Linked DNA regions of Homo sapiens: region 1 is linked to region 2. A link means that fine-mapping ties the variant in region 2 to the expression of a gene that starts in the linked region. Tissue or cell type: whole blood. Region 2 holds a variant in brackets; the other region holds the start of a gene. All regions are shown on one strand. Distances are from middle to middle. Region 1 holds the start of SQOR (sulfide quinone oxidoreductase). Region 2 overlaps SQOR (sulfide quinone oxidoreductase).

Region 1 (8,331 bases), 23 kb after region 2:
CCCTGAGGGCTGGGCTAGGGCCAAAACATGGAGATTCATTATGATCAGAAGGGAGTCACCCCATGGTATTTAAGGATGATCATAACATCATCACCCATCACCCACCATACATTTACAAAGTACTTACTATGTACATGGCACAACAGCTAACCTAGGTCACTTGCTGAAGAGGCCAAGTTTTTCTTTTCCTAACAGTCAAAATCATGAAGCTGAATATGGCTTTAACAACTTCAGGCAAGATCCTAGGGACCACACAGGGTGTCTGTAGAAGGAAAGTACATGGGAGACTCTTCTGCATAGGTTGGGTAAGAGATCCTAAGAGCAAGTGATGGACATGTCGGGATCATGACTTAAAAGAGATGGTGCCTAGTTGTAGCCATTTTTTTTAAACCTATTGTCCATTTGGTAGAACCAGTTGTATTAATTTTCTAGGGCTGCCATAACAAAACACTATAGACTAGATGAAGTCTAGAGAACAGAAATTTATTTTCTCAAAGTTCTGGAGATTGAAAGTCCAAGACCTCAGTGCTGATGAGACTGGTTTCTCCTGGGATCTCTCTCCCTGGTTTGCAGATGGCCACCTTCTCAGTGTGCCTTTGCGTGGCCTTTTCTCTGTGCACATGTGCTCCTGACGAGTCATCTTCTTATAAGGATACTATTCATATTGGATTAGGGCTCCACCTTAATGACCTAACTTAATTTTCCTTTTTTTTTTTTCTTTCTTTCTTTTTTTGAGACAGAGTCTTGCTCTGTTGCGCAGGCTAGAATGCAGTGGCATGATAATCTTGGCTCAATGCAACTTCCTCCTCTCCGGTTCAAGCAAGTCTCATGCCTCAGCCCCCTGAGTAGTTGGAATTACAGGTGCACACTACCCCACCCAGCTAATATTTTGAATTTTTAGTAGAGACGGGGTTCCTCTATGTTGGCCAGGCTGGCCTCAAACTCCCAGCCTCAAGCGATCTGCTTACCTCGGCCTCCCAAAGTGCTGGGATTACAGGCGTGAGCCACCGTGCCTGGCTAATTATTCTTTTATTGAGACAAGGTCTTGCTATGTTGCTCAGGCTAGCCTCGAACTTCTGAGCTCAAGCAGTTCTCCCACCTCAGCCTCCCAAGTAGCTGGGGCTACAGGTGCTCACCACCACTTCTAACTAAGGCACTATCTCCTAATACAGTCACATTCTAAGATCCTGGGGGCTAGGGTTTCAATATATGAATTTGGTGAGTCCATAACACCAGTATTTGCCCTTCCCAAAGTTACAGACATAGATAGTCCCAGTGTGTTCTAAATTTCCGAGGGTTTTTTTGTTCTGTTTTGTTTTTTTCCACAAAGTTCTCTACCTCCTGTCCCAATTTAGCACTTTCTCAATGTAAATCACAGGGATGGTTGGCTAGATCTACTTTTCTTTATTATTATTACCACCTACATCTGGGGATTACAAAGATTTTTAAGGCTGGGATTAAGAAGCAACTAGTTGGCTTCCAGCCAGGTCTGGGCAGCTTTCCATAAGCTATCCAAACTGCTCCTATTTACCAAGTCTTCAGAGTCAAAGAGGAGTTATATAGTAGATAGTGGAGCAGGGAAACGTGAAAGGAGAAGAAAAAAGTACATCTATGCCCAGAAATGCCTTGTCATGGGTCCGTCTCCATTCTTTATAAGACATTTCCTGTGTTACAACACATCGGATTAACAAAGCTAGACACAGGCAACATGGAGGAGAAACTGTTCTGCAAAGGAATCCGGTTTCCTTTCAACATTCAGTTTCATTTTCACTGGCAGAACACCAGCCACACAGACACGCACACACAGACCCTGGGCCCTGACTGACATTTCAAACACCCCCGTTCCAAATGTGTTTATATATTTTTCCAGCCAGAAAAAAAGCCCCAAATTTAAACAAAGTCATTTCCCAAACCACCAGCTGTCTCCTTAATGAATTTTGTTTTTTGGACTTAGTCACAAGCAACCCTTTCTGACCCACTTATTCATTCAATAAATAATGAGTACCTCCCCAGGCTTGGGGATATAAGGCCATAAGCTTGGGAGGGATACAAATAAGTTCTGATAAATGGTATCTACTTCAGCCCTCTACACTAAGTGCAGTGCTGGGTGCCTTAAATACTTGGGAAGGTGTTATTATCTCCACTGTACAATGAAGAAGCTGAGGCGAAAAGAAATTCAAAAGCCAAAGTTAAGCTGGGTGTGGTGGTTGCTTTGGGAAGCAGACAAGGGCAGATCACTTGAGGTCAGCAGTTCAAGACCAGCCTAGCCAATATGGTGAAACCCTGTCTCTACCAAAAAATACAAAAATTAGCCAGGTGTGGTGGTGGGTGGCTGGTGTAATCCCAGCTACTAGGGATGCTGAGGCAGGCGAATCACTCGAACCTGCGAGGAGGTTGCAGTGAGCAGAGATCACCTCACTGTACTCCAGCTTAGGCGACACAGCAAGACCATGTCTCAAAAAAAAAAAAAAGCCAAGGTTACAATGGGCCTTGGAAATGTCAATGGAAGTGTCAAGCCCAGAAGCCAAGTCATTGGGTCAGTGCCCTTTCTACTATCAGAGGATCTTAACCTGGACCCAAAAACTTAGATGGAAAAGTATTTTACATCTTTATTTTTACGGATATTTAATATTTACATCTTTTATTTCTCTAGTATCTAACTGAAATTTAACATTTACTTCAATTATGTATGTAGCCAACAAACCACAGCAGTATTGGCAATACTAAGACTTTGTCACCAATAGAAATCACAGATATTGGCCGTGCGCAGTGGCTCATGCCTGTAATCCCAGAACTTTGGGAGTCCAAGGTGGGCGTATCACAAGGTCAAGAGATCGAGACCATCCTGGACAATATGGTGAAATCCTGTCTCTACTAAAAATACAAAAATTAGCTGGGTGTGGTGGCACACACCTGTAGTCCCATCTACTCGGGAGGCTGAGGCAGGAGAATCACTTGAACCCAGCAGGCGGAGGTTGCATTGAACCGAGATCGCGCCACTGCACTCCAGCCTGGTGACAGAGTGAGACTCCGTCTCAAAAAAAAAAAAAAAAGAAGAAAGAAATTACAGATATTTTCTTATATTACAAGTATTACCTATATCTTGAAATAATTGTTTATGTTCTTTACTACTTCAAAATTATGGTAACTATTTAATCCACTGCTAGATCTTGTTATTTAATAACCTTGTTATTAAATAACGCATTCGTTTTTTAAAGACATATATATTACCATATCATAAATTCTTTTAATGTTTTGACATGTGTTTTGCAATTGGTTTCCTTTATAATACTCTTCCTTTTGTTTTATACCTTTAAAAAAGCATTGTTCTGGTCCAGCGCGGTGGCTCACTCGTGTAATCCCAGCACTTTGGAAGGCCGAAGTGTGCGGATCATTTGAGGCCAGGAGTTCGAGACCAGCTGGGCAACATGGTGAAACCCGCCTCTACTACAAATACTAAAATTAGCCAGGTGTGCTGCGCCTGTAATCCCAGTTACTCGGCAGGCTGAGGCAGGAGAATCGCTTGAACCCGGGAGGTGGAGGTGGCAGTGAGCCGAGATCGCGCCACTGCACTCCAGCTTGGGCGACAGAGCAAGACTCTGTCTCAAAAAAAAGTATTGTTCTGAGAGTCTTTAGCCTTCCCAGAAATGCCAAAGGGGTGCACAGCACAAAAATGGAACAGAGCCCTGCATTATAGCAATGGGCAGCGCAGGCAAAGCCAGGGGCTCTGTTCAGCGTCTTTGAGCAAAAAGCCAGGTTGGAATTTTGATAAATAAAAGAGACAGATGAAGAGGAAAGGAAATGAGCCCAGATTCCACCAGAAGACCCCTTCTCCCTTTCCACCAATTCCTGTTCAGCAGGTGCCCTAAATCCTCTCCCCTTCAGGTTTCAGCTGCAGCCGACCCCTCGAGCGCCCCCTCTGTCCCACGCGCAGTGTCGGTGGATGACTGTGTCAATCCCTGGCCCCCGGACGCCGAGCACCCACTCCCGCTCCAGGACGGTGCCGAGTGACAGTCAACAGGTGGAAGGCGCCAGAAACGTCCACACACCAAGACCACGGATACTTCGGTTTTTAAGCACCCCTCGCGGGTTGGCCTCTCCGCGGCCCTGAGGCTCTGACACTCTGAGAAGGAAGCAAGAGTCCCAAGACCCGGGTTCCAGACAAGGGCAGCAAGAGCTGCAGGTGTCCGGAGTTGAGGAAGCAAAGTTTGGGGCGCGGCGCACCGGGTCTGCGGAGTCCCAGCTGCGGAAACCGAGTTAAGCTAACAAACAGCCTCAGTGGTGGTCGCTGTCCCCGCCCAGTCTCCCTCCGCTGGCCCAGGGCCAAAGATCGGCCGCGGATGCCTCTTACCCGGGCGTGAGCGGAGCCTTCGGTCACTGCGTTGGCGCAGCAAAAACCTTCGCTCCCTTCTGGGTCTCAAGGCCTGGACTGGGGCCCCGCCCGCCTGCCATCCGGGCGGAGGCTGGAGGCGGGGAAAGCGAGGCTCCCCCCAGGAAAGGTCCCGAAAAGTCCCGCCGTGCCCCGCCCGGCGCCGCAGCCCAGGCACCATGGTCAGTGAACACACCAGGGCGTTGAGCGCTCACGGGGCACAGAACCAGGAACAAGCGTCCATCCGGCCTGGGGTGCTGCCGGCTGGACAGACTCGCCCCTTGCGCGCCCTGAAGGGCGGCCCCGCAGGCTGGGGCGCACAGGCGGAGGACACCGAGGCCACCTGACGCTTCCGCCCCTGGGTGCCAACAGCGTTTTGTAATCAGGGCAGGCAAAAGCGGAGGCGGGGCGCTGTGCAGAGAGGCTCTGGCTGTTCCCACTGGGTCCTCCTATGTGCCCTGGGCTTCTCACCGGGTTCACACAGCTGCCCAGAAACACAGGTATTCCCGCGCTCATTTCACAGAGAAGGTGACCGAGGTTCAGCTTTGGTGTGCGCTGGAGCCCTTCCTTCAAAACGCGCAGGCAGGGGTAAGCTGGCTTCCAGCCACTGGCCTCCACAGTGTCCCATCCCATATTCATGACTGGACATTTTCAGTTGGCGGCTCTTTCCAGGTTGATGTAAAGTCTCAGTGAGTGGTTCTCCACCATATCAGATTCAGTAACCCTTTTTACAATAAATACAGGGTGTCCCAAAAGTCTCATAACCTGAGAAGTGCAAGTGCTAGAAGCTTTCAAAAAAACAAACAAAAATAAACCCTTGAAAGTTTGAGTTTCTTTTACACTTATTTGGTTTTATGAATTTTGAATATATATATATATATATATATATATAGTTGTTGTTGTTGTTTTTTGAAACAGAGTCTCACTGTGTTGCCCAGGCTGGAGCGCAGTGAGTAGAGCAATCTCGGCTCACTGCAACATCTGCCTCATGGGTTCAACCAATTCTGGTGTCTCAGCCTCCTGAGTAGCTGGGACTACAGGTGTGTGCCACCATGCCCGGCTAATTTTTGTATGTTTCAGTAGAGATGAGGTTTCACCATGTTGGCCAAGCTGGTCTCAAACTCCTGGCCTCAAGCGATCTGCCCTCCTGGGCCTCCCAAAGTGCTGGGATTACAGGCGTGAGCCACCATGCCCAGCCTTGAATATTATTTTTTTAAATGTTTTCAACTGATACTTTCTATCTTTAATCAAAGAGACTGACTGTATCTATGGCAAAATCATCATGAACAATACAATACAAACGCAGACTGTAGACTTTTATTGGTAACTCAATTCCATCTGCAGCATTGCTTCTGTGACATGATTTTCTTCTTCTTCTTTTTTTTTTTTTTTTTTTTGAGGCGAAGTCTCACTCCGTCTCCCAGGCTGGAGTGCAGTGGTGTGATCTCAGCTCACTACAACGTCCACCTCCCGGATTCAAGTGATTCTCCTGCCTCAGCCTCCCGAGTAGCTGGGACTACAGGCATCCACCACCACCCATGGCTAATTTTTGTATTTTTAGTAGAGACAGGGTTTCACCATGTTGGCCAGGCTGGTCTTGAACTCCTGACCAAGTGATCCACCCACCTTGGCCTCCCAAAGTGCTGGGATTACAGGCGTGAGCCATCGCACCCAGCCAACATGATTTTTTGAAATGGCAAATAACTCTGGTAAAGAAGCTCTGAACAAAACAAAGTATACTCTTTTCTTCCTTTATTCCAATAGAAACATTCCTGGAAATTTTAGTATGAAAACCATGCAAAATGCTTAATGTTTATAATTATCTGAACTAGAACCTAAATAACTTTACCAAAAAAATGGTTTTTTGCATACTTGAATGTTGGTGCAAGGCACAGGACACCAGAAATTGTGCAGGACTCTGGACAGTTAATTGGGTTTTTGGTTTTTTGGGTTTTTTTTTTTTTAATTGAGACAGGGTCTCACTCTGCTACCCAGGTTTGAGTGCAATGGTGCGATAACAGCTTCCTGCAGCCTTGACCTCTGGAGCTTAAACAGTCCTCCTACCTCAGCCTCCCAAATAACTGAGACCACAGGCATGTGCCACCATGCCCAACTAATTTTTTTCTAAATTTATTTATTTTTTTTTTTTGTAGAGATGGAGATCTCACTACATTGCCTAGGCTGGTCTTGAACTCCTGGGCTCAAGCCATCCTCCCGCCTCAGCCTCTCAAGGTACTGGGATTAGAGGAGTGGGCCACCATGACTGGCCAGGACAGTTCATTGTTATATGGCCCTGTTCACATAGCAAGGGAGGTTGGCTTCCTTGGTTCCCACTCTCTAAATGCCAATAGACTCTCTCCCAAATTTATGACAAATAAAAAGTCCCCTCCTATATTTCCAAAATGCTTCACCCCACTTCCCAGTCCCATCACCCTCCACATCCAAGCCAAGAAGCCCTGGTTTAAATGGGAAGGATGCAGGCGGGAAGGAGTCACAGGAGATGTGCTGCCTGCTGGGTGGTTTGAGATTGATGGCTGTGGAACCAGATTCAGAGTTAAGAAACATGTCCTGGGCTGGGTGCGGTGGCTCGTGCCTGTAATCCTAGCACTTTGGGAGGCTGTGGCAGGCAGATCACGAGGTCAGGAGTTCGAGACCAGCCTGGCCAGCATGATGAAACCCCGTCTCTACTAAAAATACAAAAAAATTAGCCGGGCATTGTGGCACGTGCCTGTAGTCCCAGCTACTCGGGAGGCTGAGGCAGGAGAATTGCTTGAACCCAGCAGGCGGAGGTTGCAGTGAGCCAAGATCGTGCCACTGCACTCCAGCCTGGGCAACAGAGCGAGACTCCATCAAAAAAGGAAGGAAGGAAGGAGGGAGGGAGGGAGGGAGGGAGGGGAGGGGAGGGGGAGGGAAATGTCCTGAGCATATCCCACATGCTGAGATCCTCCAGTGTATGTATTCTACTATCTCACTCAAGAGCCCTCCTTCCAATGCAAAAGAGAATACTTCAAAGGAGAACAGAAGTTGTAACTTGCCCATCAGACAAGGAAGGGGACTGAGAGTTGACTCACTTACTCATGCAGTCATTCTTTCATCTGGTGGATATTCTCTGAGTCCTTGCCTTCTGTGTCCAGCAAGCCCTGTGCCCGCTGTCTAGGCATACACTGTTGAAAAAAATCAGACTTGATTCCTACCCATGTGAAGTTTGCGAGGAATGAAAGTGCACTTGGGGATATGGGAAACTGAAAGAAGTATCATTAAAGGATGGGAAGAAGAAGTGATAGGAGGAGCTAGCACTAAGAGGAACACACCCCAATTCAAGAACATCCGGGAGAAGGAAAATAAATCCAAATCAGGGCTCTGGGAAGATTTGCAGACACGTGGGCAGGAAGGGCTGGCAACAGGAATGGGTGGAAATAGAGAATGGAACAGTGAAAGGGATCCTTATCACAAGAAAGGGAAGGCTCAGGAGGAAGATCAGAGCAAAGAGGCTGATCCTCCAGTACTGTCTTTCCTGCCCGATCAGCAAGCCCCACCCTCATCCCTTCCCTGCTGCAAATGCTTCCTGGATGAGTAGCTAGAGAAACAACTCATACCCTAGCCTCCCCAGCAAACCCTCCCTAGCTGGGACAGTAACCCAGCCAAGGCTTCACAGCTAAGCAATGAGACTTGTGGGAGAGCTGGGAATGAGTTCTTGCTATGCATCAGGGAGCAAGCATCACATGGTGTTTCATCCTGCCAAGCCACAGGGCAGTCTCAGAACCAGATAGGCAGATGAACAGGTTGTATTAATTTGTTTTCACACTGCTGATAAAGACATACCCAAGACTGGGAAGAAAAAGAAGTTTAATTGGACTTACAGTACCATGTGGCTGGGGAGGCCTCAGAATCATGGAGGGAGGCGAAAGGCGCTTCTTACATGGTGGCGGCAAGAGAAAATGAGGAAGAAGCAAAAGCAGAAA
Region 2 (8,331 bases):
CACAGGAGCCTGGAACAGGTCAGAGCACGGTGGCTGCACTGCCTGCCCCTGCCCTGGGCTCAGCAGCAGGTGGGGGAAAAGAAAGCTGCAGATGGCTTCTGAGCAGGCCTTCCACCATCCTGCTCTTATCACCTCAGTCAAACATGGGGCGGCCACTGCTGAAAAGCTTTGACCCCTGAGTGGTGAGGGTGGGAGACTTCTAAAAGGTGCTGAGCAGTTGTGAGCCTCAAGCTCCAGCAACAATTCTCCTTAGCGCTGGCATGAACCTCAGAGTCACAGGATTCCCCTACAGTTCTGGTAGAGCGCCCCCCAGGGTGGCTGGATGGATATTTTCCAGCATCCTATTGTTCTGGGAGGCTAGGCGACCGGTAGAAAATCTGATTGCTTCAGAAAAAGAGAAGGAGGAAGGTGCTTGCTATTTTAACATGTAGCAACGTATAAACAAATGGTCTGATAAACATTCAGGTGCAAGATAGTATACTAAGCAATAGGGTGCACAGTGGGTGTTCAACAAATACTTATCTTAGTTGTTTATTAACTCAATATCACTCAGTCCTTCCATCTATCCTCCACTTACCACATACCCTGCCATCTTGTGTAGTATTCAACACACATACGTTCATGCACACACATGCATATATACCGCTCTTTCAACACAAGGCTATCCAGTTTAAGATGGCTGCATATTAATACAAGCTGTCAGATTAACAAAAAATCTAAAGGCCTCAGTGGTTACCTTCTCGTCGTCATCTGTGTGAATGCAGTTCTTGTCTGGGTTCAACTCAGTCACTCTAGCTTTGATCCATTCTACACCAGATGGAATCACACTTGCCGTGGGACGACCAGATGAGGACAATTGTTTGGCACCAGCACCCACCAGTGTCCAGATTGGCTGGTAGAAATGTCTCTGAGAAACAAAGTATTTGAAGATTTATTGCAATTTGACACTGATCAAAAGGGGTCATAGCTAACAGTATGGGCTAGATTCTTTCAATCACTCCCTCCTGACCTTTAGAGCATCGTATGGAAAAGTCTCCACAAAGTTAGCTCCGTCTATTAGGCGTCTCCTATTATGGTAAGCTCTGAAGGACAGTCACTCCACACAAGAATTCTTCCAAGATCATCAGAAAAGCTATAAACTATCTTTAGTGACCACTGCATTATGTATTGCTGAAAGTTGATTTGGTGTTTAATATGTACATGTTATATGCACGTGCATATCTACACACATATTATGGATACTTCATGTGAACAAATATTTTAAAAATTAAGCCCAGCAGCCTAGATATGGTTCCTCAGGAGCATGTGGAGACAGTGGTAAGTCTGGAAAGTTTACAGCCCCTTCCAGAGGTCCTCTAAACTTCATTAACTTCCAACTGTGTTTCCCAAGCCCAGTGAGGGCTGTGTTTCCTGAACAGCCCTTCTTCTACTTTCTCAGAGACTCAGAGATTTTACACCAAAGACAATAAGTACCAGATCCTACTCCACAATGCAATGCATACCCAAACTTTCACTATCTTCTGGAGTTTTCTTGCTTCAGATGGTCCTTTTTTTTTTTTTTTTTTTTTTTTAAGACAGAGTCTCGCCCAATCACCCCAATCACCCAGGCTGGAGTGCAGTGGCACGATCTCGGCTCACTGCAACCTCCACCTCCCAGGTTCAGGCGATTCTTCTGCCTCAGCCTCCTGAGTAGCTGGGACTACAGGCATGTGCCACCATGCCTGGCTAATTTTTGCATTTTTAGTAGAGATGGCATTTCACCATGTTGCCTAGGTTGGTCTTGAACTCCTGACCTCAGGTGATCTGCCTTCCTCAGCCTCTCAAAGTGCTGGGATTACAGCCCTGAGCCACTGTGCCCAGCAACAGTCCATTCTTGATCTAAGTTAGTTGTAAAAGTTCTGGACATAGGGGCAAAGGGCAGATTTGTTTAATGGCCTCTAAGAATTCCAATCCACTTAGAGTAGACTGGGGACCAAGAGCTCTCAATATTGCCAAAATGCCTCAAAGTAGCTGGCCAGCACTGCCAAAACCCACAGAGAGGTGAAGAGGACACCAGGAATGACTTTGCAATCTCCCTACAAGCAATAATGTGATCCAAGAGGGAGGAAGACAGAGGTCTCCATTTATGAGAGCTCATCAATGGCCAGTCTATCTTGAACAGTAAGAGGAGCAAAAATACAAGCTCAGATTTTATTTTTAGACTATGAACATCAGCTCCAGCTATCACTAAATCAGACTCAGCAGGGAAAGTACCAAGCCTGGGGCTCTGGCAGCTCCTTCCAGAAATTCCTGTCCTGTACTTCCTCACGGGGCAGGACAAACTTGATTCTGGCCGCCTGAATTGTGCCCAGGTCCCAGAAGAGCCAGTCTCCTTACAAAGAGAAGCCTGACTGGGAGACCCGCCCACGCATTAGCTAAAATACAACATATACCAGAAACAGTAGCCACCTGACACAGCTCTCAGACCACTGTCATTTAAAGTGAGGTTCCTGAATTGAACAGACGTCACTTTAAAAAGGAAAATGATAGAGACTGCCCCCTAGTTTCCTCTCAAATCATGGCCCTGGTTAACATCATTCCCTGCTGGGGACAAATCTTGAAAAGGAGTATGTCTTCCTTGTCCTGTCCTCCCCCTGAAACAGGCACCTGATCCATTTTGCTTTTTCCTCCCAAGGATACAGCTCCCAACCAGTACATGCCTAGTTCCACAGGAAACATTAGGCAAACCACCAAAAATCTTGAATATTTTTCTGAAGCTTTTGGACAATCTTAACATGTTTTTTGTGAGACAGCGCCTTACTCAGTCTTCCCTCCTAGTGTCAGCTACCTTTTCTCCCTTATAATCTGCCCTTGCATTTAAATTTCTAAGCCCACTGACAGCTTTCCAGAGGCCTTCCTGCTCCCCAACTCATCATCCCTTCTCCAGACAGGAACAGATAGGCAAGTGCAGTGGCCATTGATTTTCCTCTGGGCAGGAGGTTGGCACTGGGAGAGTGTCATGGGTTGAATTGTATCTCTCTCAAAGAAGGATGTTGACGTTCTAACCCCAGTACCTGGGAATGTAACCTTATTTGGAAATAGGGTCTTTGCAAATGTAATCAAATTAAGATGAGGTCATTCTTGAATAGAGTGTGCCATAAATCCAATGAATGGTGGCTTTATAAAAGGGTCATGTGAAGACACAGGGACACAGAGACACACAGAGAACATTCTGTGAAGATGGAGGCAGAGAAAGGAGTGGCACAGCTACAAGCCAGAGAGTGGCAAGGATTTCAGGGTAACCACCAGAAGCTGGGAGAGAGGCATGAGACAAAGCCACCTGCCCATCCCTCTCACCCAGGCTGCAGAGGGAGCATGGCCTTGCCCATAGCTTGGTTTCAGGCTTCTAGCCTCCAGAACTGTGAGGGAATAGATGTCTGTTGTTTTAAGCCACCCAATTTGCAGTAATTTGTTATGGCAGCCCTAAGAAACTAATACAGAGGAGAACACTAAAAGCCAAGAGATCTGTTCTCCCTCTCTCTTTCCCTCCACTTCCTCCCAGTCCTTCTGGATAGGCTGCTTTCTGTGCCCAGGAGAAGCCCTAACCTGAACATATGAAGACCCATTGCTTGATAGTCATATCCAACCCCAGAACACACACACACACACACTCACACACACACACACGTACACACACACCCAGGCCCTCAAAAGGGGAGGCTTACCTCACTGGGCTCAACAATGGCCACATTCTCTGCACCCACTTTCCTCTTCATGCGGGCAGCCATGGTGATTCCGCCACTGCCCCCACCCAGCACCAGCACCTCATAATGGTTCCTGGCCGCATGGCTGGCCCCGGTGTGCAGCTGAAGGGGGCCGACCTGCTGAGTGCCCAGCCTGAGCAGGCAGGCAAAGAGCTGGGCACGGGGCCCTGATACCACAGCCACCAGTGGCACCATCTTCAGGCAGGAT[C/G]AGGCTGGAAGGGAAGAGACAGGGCTGTGAGTGCCAAGGTAGAAACCATCGTGGGACTGAAGCGTTTTCTTTCCAGGAGGAAGGGAGGCCGGCATCTGGCCCGCTCCAGCTGGTCCCCATCATCTCTCAAGACCACTTTCCCCACTGGCTGTGGTCCCAAGGTCTCCTGAGAGCACCCAATTGGTAGCTATCAGTTGACTACACTTACCATTTCTCCCCTTCCGCCTACGTTCAGGCTATCGAGGACTTTGTTTGAATCAGGTTCCCCAACTCTTTAAGTCCTTCCTAATAACCTGTCTGTACCCATCCTTGTCCATCCGTAAGATCTAGGGCACCATCTGGTTGTATCCAGCTGTTGGCCCATTCTCCACGGAGGCACACTCCCCAGTGCTTTCTGTGGATTTTCAGTCCATTAAAACTGATATACGAGTCCACAATTAGAGACCTACAACATTCCTTGCAGTAAAAGGCACCTGAGACCTTGTTGAAACAGAAACCGTCTAGCAAGAAACCCACCTTCTGCAACTCAGAGTACCCACCAGGGCAATCAAGGCCTCAGCCCCCATCCAGAGGCCTCCTGGCTCTGCTTGCCCAGGGAAATATAATGTAATCAAATCACTGGCTACCGACACACAAGTGAAGGCCCTCCACACCTCTAGCAATTTCAACCAAACGATTTTAGAAAGCCATAAAAGGAGCCCTGCCTGGTATCATAAAGTTATATTTTATGGAAGGAATCTGTATATGCTGCTGACTAGTCTTTTATTACATCCAATTCAGTAAACAATTTCTCCTTAATAGTTCCTCCGAGAGACTCACTTTACCTTTAAGAAAACCTGTTTCTACTCTCAGCAGTTAGTGCTTTGGCAGAGAGGAAATTAAGGCTTCTCAAAGACTGACCTTTGCTTTACCCCACACACAAAGCTGGCCTGACATCCAGGACTCCATCTACTTGTAAACCTTGAGTGGCTCCGGCTCATGATATCTCCCTCCCTGGGTATGACAGTGCCCCAAATCCTACCGTCAAGTCCAGTTCTTAGGGTTCACCACTGCTCCAAGAACCCTTTATTAAAATGCAAGTGTCCAGCTGGGGACTAACACTTCTAGCTGCTAAGGTTACTAACTACTTAATAAAATGACTTAATTATATCATTTCCATCCTCCCGACTGGAGAAGAGGAAGCCTGCACAAGGGGATTAGAGAAAGCTGGCAGGGCAGAGGAGCTACAAAAAGAAAGAAAGGCCTTGGAGAGGGGGAAAAATAATAGGGAATGGGAAAGAGGAGCTGAGGGGCTGTTAAGATTAACTTAATTCCAGAGTTTTGGTGCCCCGACAACTTCTTCAATATTTCAGATCTGAGAAGCAACCTAGAGCTGTAGGAAGGGGATTTGGAGGCCCACGGTAAGTAGGACAGGCTCATACAGTGTTTCCAGGAGTCTAGAGTCAATAAAACCCTTCTGGAAACTTACCCTTTGACCCTGCATTTCCATTTCTAGGAATCTAATCTAAGGAAATAACCTCTAATACTGAAGAAGAAAAACCACTACAAAGATGTTTTTCACAAATGTATTCATAATCTGGTCACCCCTCTACTAATTGGTTTGTGGATTAGGGCTAATTATGTCCTGGGGACAGAAAAAAAAAAATGCAGGCTCCACACGGGCCAGGGAAGGCTCAGGTCACCACTTTAATATGGGGGCAGAGAGCAATGCAAATATCAAAACACTGGGGAAAGGTTAACTAAAATATGGAACACAAGATGATTTCTGAAGTCTTTTAAAATTATGTTCATAAACAATATATAGACCAGGCGTGGTGGTTCACACCGGTAATCCCAGCACTTTGGGAGGCCAAGACAGGTGGATCACCTGAGGTCAGCAGTTCAAGACCACCCTGGCCAACATGGTGAAACCCTGTCTCTACTAAAAATACAAAAATTTTTAGCCAGGCGTGGTGGTGTGTGCCTGTAATCCCAGCTACTAGGGAGGCTGAGCCATGAGAATTGCTTGAACCCAGGAGGCAGAGGTTGCAGTAAGCTGAGATCATGCCACTGCACTCCAACCTGGGTGACAGAGTGAGACTCTGTCTGAAAAAAACAATAAAATAAAATAAATAAAAAATGTTTACATCATGATCAGGATACAAATTAGAAATGCAATATTCTCTCAACTATGTAAGAGGAAATATATTAGAAAAAACAAAGCCAAAATTTTAACACTGGCAAGTGGTTTTCTCTGGGTTTTAGAATAATGAGTGATTTTGATTTCTTCTGCTTTTATGTATTTTATAAAAGTCTCTACTATACACATACATTAATATTGGCTGGGCATGGTGGCTCACACCTGTAATCCCAGCACTTTAGGAGGCTGAGAGAGAGGGATCACCTGAGCCCAGGAGTTTGAGACTAGCATGGAAAACATGGGGAAACCCCAACTCTATTTAAAAAAAAAAAAAATTAGCCAGGCATGGTGGTGCACCCAGCTACTACCAAGGCTGAAGTGGAAGGATCACTCAAGCCCGGGAGGTGAAGGCCACAGTGATCTGTGATTTCACCACTGTACTCCAGCCTGGGAAGAGAGGGAGACCCTGTCTCAAAATAAATAAATAAAATTAATATTAATAAAATCTTCCTTTAGATGATAATTAACATTTACAAAGTCCTTTACATAAGCATTTAACTTGTGAGTTGGCTACCACCATCATTCCCATTTAACAGATGGTAAAACTAAGGCAGATAGCAGTTAAGTGACTCTCAAAGTTATATAGCCCATGGGTGGACTGTGATTTGTACCCAGGTATTTTGGTGTGAGAGCCTCTACTTTAAACCACTACACCATACTATCTCTATGATCTTTAGAACAATATGTCTCAACAGCAACAAAACAATGCTTGTGTGATAATGTTAAACGGGGAAAAAAAAAAAAATAGGCCAGGCACGGTGGCTCACGCCTGTAATCCTAGCACTTTGGGAGGCCAAGGCGGGCGGATCACAAGGTCAGGAGATCGAGACCATCCTGGCCAACATGGTGAAATCCCGTCTCTACTAAAATACAAAAAAAAATTAGCTGGGCATGGTGGTGTACACCTGTAGTCCCAGCTACTGGGGAGGCTGAGGCAGGGGAATCACTTGAACCCGTGAGGCGAAGGTTGCAGTAAGCCAAGATTGCGCCACTGCACTCCAGCCTGGGCAACAGAGTGAGACTCTGTCTCAAAAAGAAAAAAAAAAAAAAGATATACTTTCTACAACTTCCCAGAAAAGGGAAACCATTTTTCATGATACTGATACCTAAATATTAGCAATGGTTTTAATGATTATAATTATTTTCCCTCTTCTTTGTATGTACTTTTCACAAATTTTCTTTAATACACTGTACATTTTAAATTTTAAAAATTACTCAAATAGATTTTTTTTAGATTGAAGAGAAGAAGAAATCACCAAGTAAGATATTGATGTTTCATACGGAAGGAAGAAGATATTTTATGGTGTGTACCCAGTCATCACATCCTGCTTTTCTTTCTAAATGTCCACAGAATGATAGAATCACAGCAAAACTTCTCACTTTCCAGAAAAGAAAAATCATGTTTTTCATGGTCCTGACACTATATCTATCTCCATGGGAAAAGCCCCATAGGAAGCGCCCCATGGGGCAGGGGCAGGAGGAGCAATCTAGGAGGAGGCCTGGCTAAGTTTCTGGTTTCCAGCCACCCTGTCTGAGGTTATTTGGCCTCCAAGTGATACAAGAGTTAAGAAAAATTTACTTAGGCAGATAGTGAGGGTATGGAAGTCCTCGGTAAGGTTTTCCTTTTAATGAAAAGCAGCCCCAAATCATTTTCCTGTCTAACAAAAGCAGCCTGTAAAATCGAGCTGCAGACATAGATGCTGGCAATCATGTTCAAGATGGCGGCTCCATTTTCCCTTTGCTTTGTCAGCCATGTGTACAGTAAGGAGCAGACAAGATGGCCCCAACTAAGGGGAAAGTTCATTTGCATAATAAGATGAGGGTGGGGAGGCCAGCCTTCCTGATGCACTATGTAAACATCATACCTGATCAAACCAATCTGTGAGCCCTATGTAAATCAGACACCGCCTCCACCAACCTGACTATAAAATCTGACATATCCACCACCGGCCACGTCTTTCCACTCAGAAGACCCCTCTCTCTCAATAGAGAGAGTTGTTTTTCTTTCTCTTTTCTCCTGTCTATTAAACCTCCACTCCGAAACTCCTTGTGTGTGTCCATGTCCTAAATTTTCCTGGCGCAACACGATAAACCATGGGTATACACGCCAGTCAATGTAGCCACTTCACTAGCTCCCTTCCAGTCTAATACTTCATGGTTCCTCTCTTGAAAATTTACACAAATATTTCCCTCACTCAGCC

The links.
Region 1: it holds the start of SQOR, and the variant in region 2 is fine-mapped to the expression of SQOR in whole blood (TOPMed, PIP above 0.99).

What each region holds. Positions count from the first base shown.
Region 1 is chr15:45,631,129-45,639,459 of GRCh38, reverse strand. SQOR (sulfide quinone oxidoreductase) reads right to left here and starts at 4,431. Exons shown (of 10, transcript NM_021199.4): 1 at 4,352-4,431. RefSeq lists enhancers at 1,661-1,720, 1,751-1,830, 3,660-3,709, 3,740-3,829, 4,292-5,287 and a silencer at 4,310-4,479.
Region 2 is chr15:45,654,531-45,662,861 of GRCh38, reverse strand. It overlaps SQOR (sulfide quinone oxidoreductase), which reads right to left. Exons shown (of 10, transcript NM_021199.4): 2 at 3,705-3,955; 3 at 737-907. The coding sequence starts at 3,938. Among named protein-coding and RNA genes, the nearest start is that of SQOR, 24 kb to the right of the region's middle. The variant C/G (reference allele first, on the strand shown) is at 3,952.